2 linked regions of the Homo sapiens genome follow. The protein of the gene in region 2 interacts with the protein of the main gene of each other region in a biochemical or structural test. Each region holds a gene or a part of one and is shown on either strand. Other genes may lie near its edges. The genes, in order: DAP3 and TNFRSF25.

Region 1 (3,540 bases), about 150 Mb from region 2:
AAAAGGCTCTATGGGTACTCAGGACTGTTAACAGATGGCAAAAACAAAACAAAACAAAACAAAACAAAACTCCATGGCGACCTCTAAGGCAGAAGTTTATGTCCATGGGTATTAAATATCAAAAGAAGGACTGCTTAGCATCAAAAGGCTTCAGGAAGCTTTTAGCCGAATTTCCTTTTGTCACATTGACTTCACCTTATAATCTGCTTGGCAGTAATATCACGAAGAAATCATGATGGATGAGCTCAGTCTGCTCTACATCTGGAGTAAAGGCTTTTCTTCTTCTTCTTTTTTTTTTTTTTTTTTGAGACAGGGTCTTGCTTTGTTGCCCACGCTAGAGTGTAGTGGTGCGATCACAGCTCACTGCAGCCTCCTCCTGGGCTCTAAGCAATATTCCAGCCTCAGCCTCCCAAAGTGCTGGGATTATAGGTTTGAGCCATCGTGACTGGCAAAGGCTTTTCCTTTAGCTATCAGATCCCTGTTAGGAAAGTAAAGCTGAGGCCGGGTGCAATGGCTCATGCCTGTAATCCCAGCACTTTGGGAGGCCAAGGCAGGTGGATCACCTGAAGTCAGGAGTTCGAGACCAGCCTGGCCAACATGGTGAAACCCTGTCTCTACTAAAAATACAAAAAAAATTAGCCGGGCATGGTGGCGGGCGCCTGTAGTCCCAGCTACTCAGGAGGCTGAGGCAGAAGAATGGTGTGAACCCGGGAGGCGGAGCTTGCAGTGAGCTGAGATCGTGCCACTGCACTCCAGCCTGGGCGACAGAGCAAGACTCCGTCTCAAAAAAAAAAAAAAAAAAAAATTAGCTGGGCGTGGTGGTGTGGTGGGCGCCTGTAATCCCAGCTACTTGGGAGGCTGAGGCAGGAGAATCTCTTGAGCCTGGGAGGCGGAGGTTGCGGTGACCTGAGATTGCGCCTCTGCACTCCAGACTGGCCGACAAGAGCGAAACTCCATCTCAAAAAAAAAAAAAAAAAGAAAAGAAAAGAAAAGAAAATTAAAGCTGCAAGGCTACCACAGTAACAGGATAACTAAACCTAACAGACAGAAGAAACAACAGGAAGTTCTTACCATCTGGAATATGTAGTATCAGCCAGTCCTGTTTTGCACAGAAATGAATAACATGGCAAAGACTTAGGGTTTTTCCTGTTCCCTTCTCTCCATCTAAAGTATATGTTGTTAAAGAAAACATGACTGGAAGGATCACTTGTATGTGAACAGTAGTTATGCTTTGTTTTGTTTTTTTGAGATGGGGTTGGAGTGCAGTGGCTTGATATCAGCTCACAGCAACCTCCGCTTCCCGGGTTCAAGCGATTCTCCTGCCTCAGCTTCCCAAGTAGCTGGGATTACAGGTGCACGCTACCACACCCGGCTAATATATTGCATTTTTAGTAAATGCGGGGTTTCGCCATGTTGGCCAGGCAGGTCTTGAACTCCTGACTTCAGGCGATACGCCTGCCTCGGCTTCCCAAACTCCTGGGATTATAGGTGTGAGCTACCATGCCCGGCCTCAACAGTACTTTTTTTCATTTCTTCTGTTGCCTTATTTGAGGGGAGAAAGCATTGGTTCATGAGGGTCCACGCAGGCAGGAAAGGATACACAGAAGATATCGTATAGCTGGATAAGCAAAACTGGTGTTTTTCAGGTAATGCAGAAGTTCTAGGGCTGGTTTCCTTACCATCAGGCAAGCTTCACTGAATGTCTTCACCTGATAAAGTAGGAAAGAAGGAAAGAGTGGGTGGGTGTGGAAGGAGTGGGTGGGGGGTGGTATATATACTCTGCCTAAAGTGGCAACCAAGACCATCAGATTGCATGCCTCTAATTTACTCAGTTAGGAGAAGCTGGGTTGGTACTGAGTTTGAAAATCTATCCATATAACTTAGCTAAAAACTGAAATACATTATTCCGCACTAAGTAACATGATAGTCAGCTTTTGATTATTCCTATTACTGAAGCATATATTCTATCTCAGCTGAAATCTATAAATAATTGATATATCTCATAACAAAATTATGTATACCACTTAGGGCCACTGTAAATATGGAAAGCATATAGAAAAATGCTTAAAATTTCTGACACAAGTTAATAATTCAATAAACATTAACTCTTTAAATTTTTTTTCTTTTTTTTTTTTTGAGACGGAGTTTCACTCTTGTTGCCCAGGCTGGAGTGCAATGGCACGATCTCGGCTCACCACAACCTCTGCCTCCCAGTTCAAGTGATTCTCCTGCCTCAGCCTCCCGAGTAGCTGGGATTACAGGCACCCACCACCATGCCCGGCTATTTTGTATTTTTAGTACAGAAGGAGTTTCTCCATGTTGGTCAGGCTGGTCTCAAACTCCCGACCTCAGGTGACACCCCCGTCTTGGCCTCCCAAAGTGCAGGGATTACAGGCGTGAGCCACTGCACCTGGCCTAAAATTTATTTTTAGTTGATTTTTTTTTTTTTTCTTTTTTTGAGACAGAGTCTCACTCTGTCACCCAGGCTAGAGTGCAGTGGTGTGATCTCGGCTCACTGCAACCTCCGCCTCCGGGGTTCAAGCAATTCTTCTGCCTCAGTCTCCTCAGTAGCTGGGATTACAGGTGCCACCACCATGCCAGGCTGATTTTTGTAATTTTAGTAGAGACAGGCTTTCACCATGTTGGTCAGGCTGGTCTCGAACTCCTGACCTCATGATCCACCCGTCTCAGCCTCCCAAGGTGCTGGGATTATAGGCGTGAGCCACCGCACCTGGCCTAAAATTTATTTTTATTACTTTAACCATTTAGACTTTTTTCTCTAGAACTAAATACATGGCGGCTCAGGAGCAGGTGTGACCAGCTGCCTCACAACTCTAAGGCCATCCATACCTCATACCTCCAGCATACTAACCTTTCAGAGTTTAATTCCCCTTTTGCTACCAGAATACTTTGGTGGGAAATTTGGGAAGTACTAATGTGTGTGAAACTGATTTGCAAAGAAAATATTAAAATATGTCTACTAATAAGAATATCTAACAAATACTGTTTGTAAGTATAACTAAAATAGTGTTAATTTTTTTTTTTTTTTTTTGAGACAGAGTCTCGCTCTGTCGCACAGGCTGGAGTGCAGTGACACGATCTCAGCTCACTGCAACCTCCGCCTCCCGGGTTCAAGCGATTCTCCTGCTTCAGCCTCACAAGTAGCTGTGACTACAGGCGTGTGCCACCACGCCCAGCTAATTTTTGTATTTTTAGTAGAGATGGAGTTTCACCATGTTGGCCAGGCTCATCTTGAACTCCTGGCCTTAAGTAATCTGCCCACCTCAGCTTCCCAAAGTGCTGGAATTACAGGCGTGAGCCATTGTACCCAGCCAGTGTTGATATTTTTAAAAGAAATCCTAACAAAACAATTGAATTGGTGTAGGATTTGACAGGCAATTCCAAACTTAATGGAAGGCTCAATGTTCAAAAAAACATGATAAAGGTATTAAAACAAATGTTGGCTGGGCGTGGTGGCTCATCCCTGTAATCCCAGCACTTTGGGAGGCCAAGACAGGTGGATCACCTGAGGTTAGGAGT
Region 2 (3,404 bases):
TGGCGCCCTGGCAGCGACAGGTCATCCTGAAGAAGGGGGACATCGCTAAGTACTAGAGGCCGCAGACTCCTGTCCGCAGCCTCGCAGCTCCGTGGGGCCCTCCGCCCCAGCCCCAGCCAGCCAGGCCCTGGTGGAAAGGCTGGGAGCCGCACAGCCCTCCCCTCCTGCGCTGGAAACCCTCCCTGACCCCCACCCTGGCCCCCCGTATCCCCAGCCCTTGGCAACACTGGAGTGCACACGCCGCCACGGTTGCCCAGAAAAAGTGCCCAAGCTGCTGACGCAAACAACAACAAATGCTGCTTATTTGCATGCCGACTTACATATATTTGCATGTTCGTTGACTATCAAAGAGTGCAGAGCTCTCCCCAGCCCCGTGGGTGGTGACTTTGTTTTCCTGCGGGGCTCAGCCCCCTCCAGGATGCAGCCCCCTCCCCCGCACCCCGGAACCGGCGTCGCTGGCGCATCCTGGGTGGAGGCAGGCCCCGAGCTCGGGGAAGGGGTTTTCCCTTCCTCTCTGACCCAGATCTGCGCGCGGCCTAGCCCGGGCCTCATTTCTTATCCCCGCCAAGGGTTTCCTCTCAGTCATTTGTTTACCAGAAACATGAAAACTGCCTGTCTGGCCGGGCCGCACTTGTGGCCCCCGGGACCCCACCTCTGGCCCCACCTCCCTCAAGTCTGCGCCCCGTCCCCAGCCAGACCCACTCGCTGCCGGGACCCTTTCACTGCCCCGGTGGAGTGAATAGAGGATGAGGGGCCCTGACCCTGTGTCTCCAACTGCTGCACCCCATCCCGACCCTGTCTCCGCCACCTCGCAGCCCCATTAAAGCGCTCTCATCTGGGCTCCGGTTCACTCACTCGCTGTGGCCGCGACTTGCTCTCTCCTTCTCGGGGTAATTGAGCCAGAGTGGACTCGGGAGGGGCAGGCTTGGGAGCTAAGGCCACACTGGACTCCACCATGGGTGCCAGATCCCGGGGTGACAAGATTCCCGTCCCCTTCGAATCCCTCGAGAAAAGTCCAGTCCACTTAACACCCCAGCCCCGCAGAAACGCCAAGAAGCCGTTTTTGTTTTGTTTTGTTTTCTTTCACAGATTTAATACCGCGATCTCAGCCAAACTCCGGCCGAGAAGTTGAGAAATGTCTTCACCCCCTCTCGACATTCGTTCGTGCTTCTTCGCCTTGGCTGGAGCGATAGGGGCGAGCAGGGGTGGGGCCGGCTGGTGCTGCTACGCAGGGCCGTGCCAGCGGCTTAATAAGTGACATAAAATGTCTACACGCATAAGTAACCGTACTTAGGGCTTCTGCAAGGGCCACCAGAGCGCCTAGGTGGCAAGTGGGCGCCGTGTCACGGGCCGCGCTGCAGGCGGCTGCGCAAGTCTTCCACGCAGCCGTCCAGCCCCATGCGCTCCAGGGCCGCGTAAACGGCTCCGAGGCCCGCGGGCTGCTGCTGGCGCCAGCGCTTGAGCATCTCGTACTGCTGGTCTCGGAAGCGGCCGATCTCCACCTCCACGGCTTCGATCTCTGCCTCGCGCAGCCCCAGCGTGCGCACGAACTCCTTCCAGCGCCGCGCTGGGACCGCGTCCATCACGTCGTAGAGCTGCGGGCCCGGCTGCAGCATCATGGCTGGCGAGCCGGCTGGGGACTCTGGCGAGAGTGTGGGCGCAGCAGCGGGGCCTGGGGCAGGGCCAGAGAGAGCCAATTGGGGTACGTGGGCCGCGGTCGGGAGGCAGAGTCAGGGGCGTTCGTGCGGGTACCCCAGGGCTGAAGCCCGCTGGATCCGGTGGGTCAGGGCATAGGGCGGACTCCGTCAGTTAGGGGGCAGAAAGGGAACACGTTGTGAAACCACAACTTCCCACCGCAGACAGGAGAATGGGGTCAAGGCCTCAGGCCACTGATGTCCCTTACCAAGAGCTCTGCTGGGCAACTGGTCCCAGGACCATGTCACCTGCGGGCAGAGCGCCTCCTGGGTCTCGGGGTAGCCAGGGGTCCAGCTGTTACCCACCAACTGGACGGTGCAGATCTTCTCACTGCTGTCAGGAGGTGCTAGAAGGGTGTGGGCGCTGTCCAAGGGTGACAGATGGGTGGCCTGGAAGCCAAGAGGGGCCCCAGGTCAGCCCTGCTTGCCAAGTAAGGCCCCTTACCCGCAGTGCCTCTCCAGGAGGGGACAGTCCCTGGTTCAGTCAGCAGACACCCCCGCAATGACACCTCCCACAGTTGGCCCTGCTCTCACTGTAGCCCAGCAGAACTCTTGCTTCTGCCTTGAGTCCCCTGCCCCCGCCTCCTTCCTCTTGTCCCCCAGCACCATGGGGCTCTCCTTCCATTGAACTGTTAGCTCCTGTGTACGAATCTGAACTCCAGCTGACTGAGCACCCCTTGAGGGCAGGCACTGTGCTGGTCTCATCCACTGATGACTCTGCTCCCAACACCTCTGTCCACTAGGGCTACCCGGTGCTGGCCGCGTGCCAAGCTCCAGGGATCATAGTAAGGCTTGATCTTCCAGCTCCAGAAGGCAGCCCAGAATCACACAGTGAGGTTCTTACCGGTGGTGGGGTCAGAGCCTCCATCCCAGCTTCATCTGCTGACAGACACAGAGAGATTGCGGTCAGCCACCAGGCAAGCCTCCTGGACCTGGGTGCTGGTACAGCTCCTCTAGGGTTCCTCTGCACCCCACACTCCCTGCCTCAGTTTCCCCTTCTGTATCAGGGTTGAGTAGACTCTGGGCTACCCATCCTGACCCCAGGCTTCTGGGTGCGTGTGTGGGTGTGTGTACTTACCAGTAACCAGGGGCTTGTGAGGCCAGCAGTGGCGGTATGTGTAGGTCAGGGTGGCCCCAAGCAGGAGGGGGACCACAAGGCCAGCCAGGAGCACCTGGACCCAGAACACTGAAAGCAGCTGGTGGGTGTTGGGTGGTTGCCCCCCTCCTCACCCGCCTCCCCTCGGTCCATCCCAGTTCTCCCACTCGCATTCCCAGCACACCACCTACTCTGCCTCCAGCCACAGACAGCGGCACAGCGCTCTGGACAGCTCCCCAGGGTGCTCCTGCAAGGGACGGGGGTGGCCTGAGGGATGAGGGGGTGCATGCCAGGAGGGGCTCCCTAAGACTGCCCAGCATCTGCTCCATCCTAGAGACCCTTCCCTCCCCAGGCCTCTCACTCTACCCAAGAATGTTCCTGTCATTGTGTCCCTGGTAACAACCACAGACACTATTCACTGAGCTTCTTCTAGACTACATGAAGAGTCACTAGAATGTCAACCCCAAAAGGACAGGGATTTTGCCTATTTTGTCCCCTGTTGCATCCCCAGCACCTAGAACAGTGTGTAGAACATAGCAGATATTCAATAAAGACTTGAATGGAGGCCGGGCGCGGTGGCTCATGCCTGTAATCCCAGCACTTTGGGAGGCCAA

The links.
Region 1: the proteins of TNFRSF25 (region 2) and DAP3 form a complex in vitro, tested with the Homo sapiens proteins (one study listed by BioGRID).

What each region holds. Positions count from the first base shown.
Region 1 is NC_000001.11:155,723,551-155,727,090, reverse strand, and holds part of DAP3 (small ribosomal subunit protein mS29), read right to left. Parts: intron 1,710-3,540; coding exon 1,601-1,709; intron 1,165-1,600; coding exon 1,072-1,164; intron 1-1,071. UniProt on the Homo sapiens protein: As a component of the mitochondrial small ribosomal subunit, it plays a role in the translation of mitochondrial mRNAs. Involved in mediating interferon-gamma-induced cell death. Displays GTPase activity in vitro.
Region 2 is NC_000001.11:6,460,091-6,463,494, forward strand, and holds the end of TNFRSF25 (tumor necrosis factor receptor superfamily member 25 isoform 2 precursor), read right to left. Parts: intron 3,058-3,404; coding exon of another isoform or gene 3,038-3,057; coding exon 2,982-3,037; coding exon of another isoform or gene 2,975-2,981; intron 2,881-2,974; coding exon 2,773-2,880; intron 2,577-2,772; coding exon 2,539-2,576; intron 2,085-2,538; coding exon 1,904-2,084; intron 1,673-1,903; coding exon 1,344-1,672; 3' UTR 1,096-1,343; coding exon of another isoform or gene 1,090-1,095; 3' UTR 696-1,089; downstream 1-695. UniProt on the Homo sapiens protein: Receptor for TNFSF12/APO3L/TWEAK. Interacts directly with the adapter TRADD. Mediates activation of NF-kappa-B and induces apoptosis. May play a role in regulating lymphocyte homeostasis.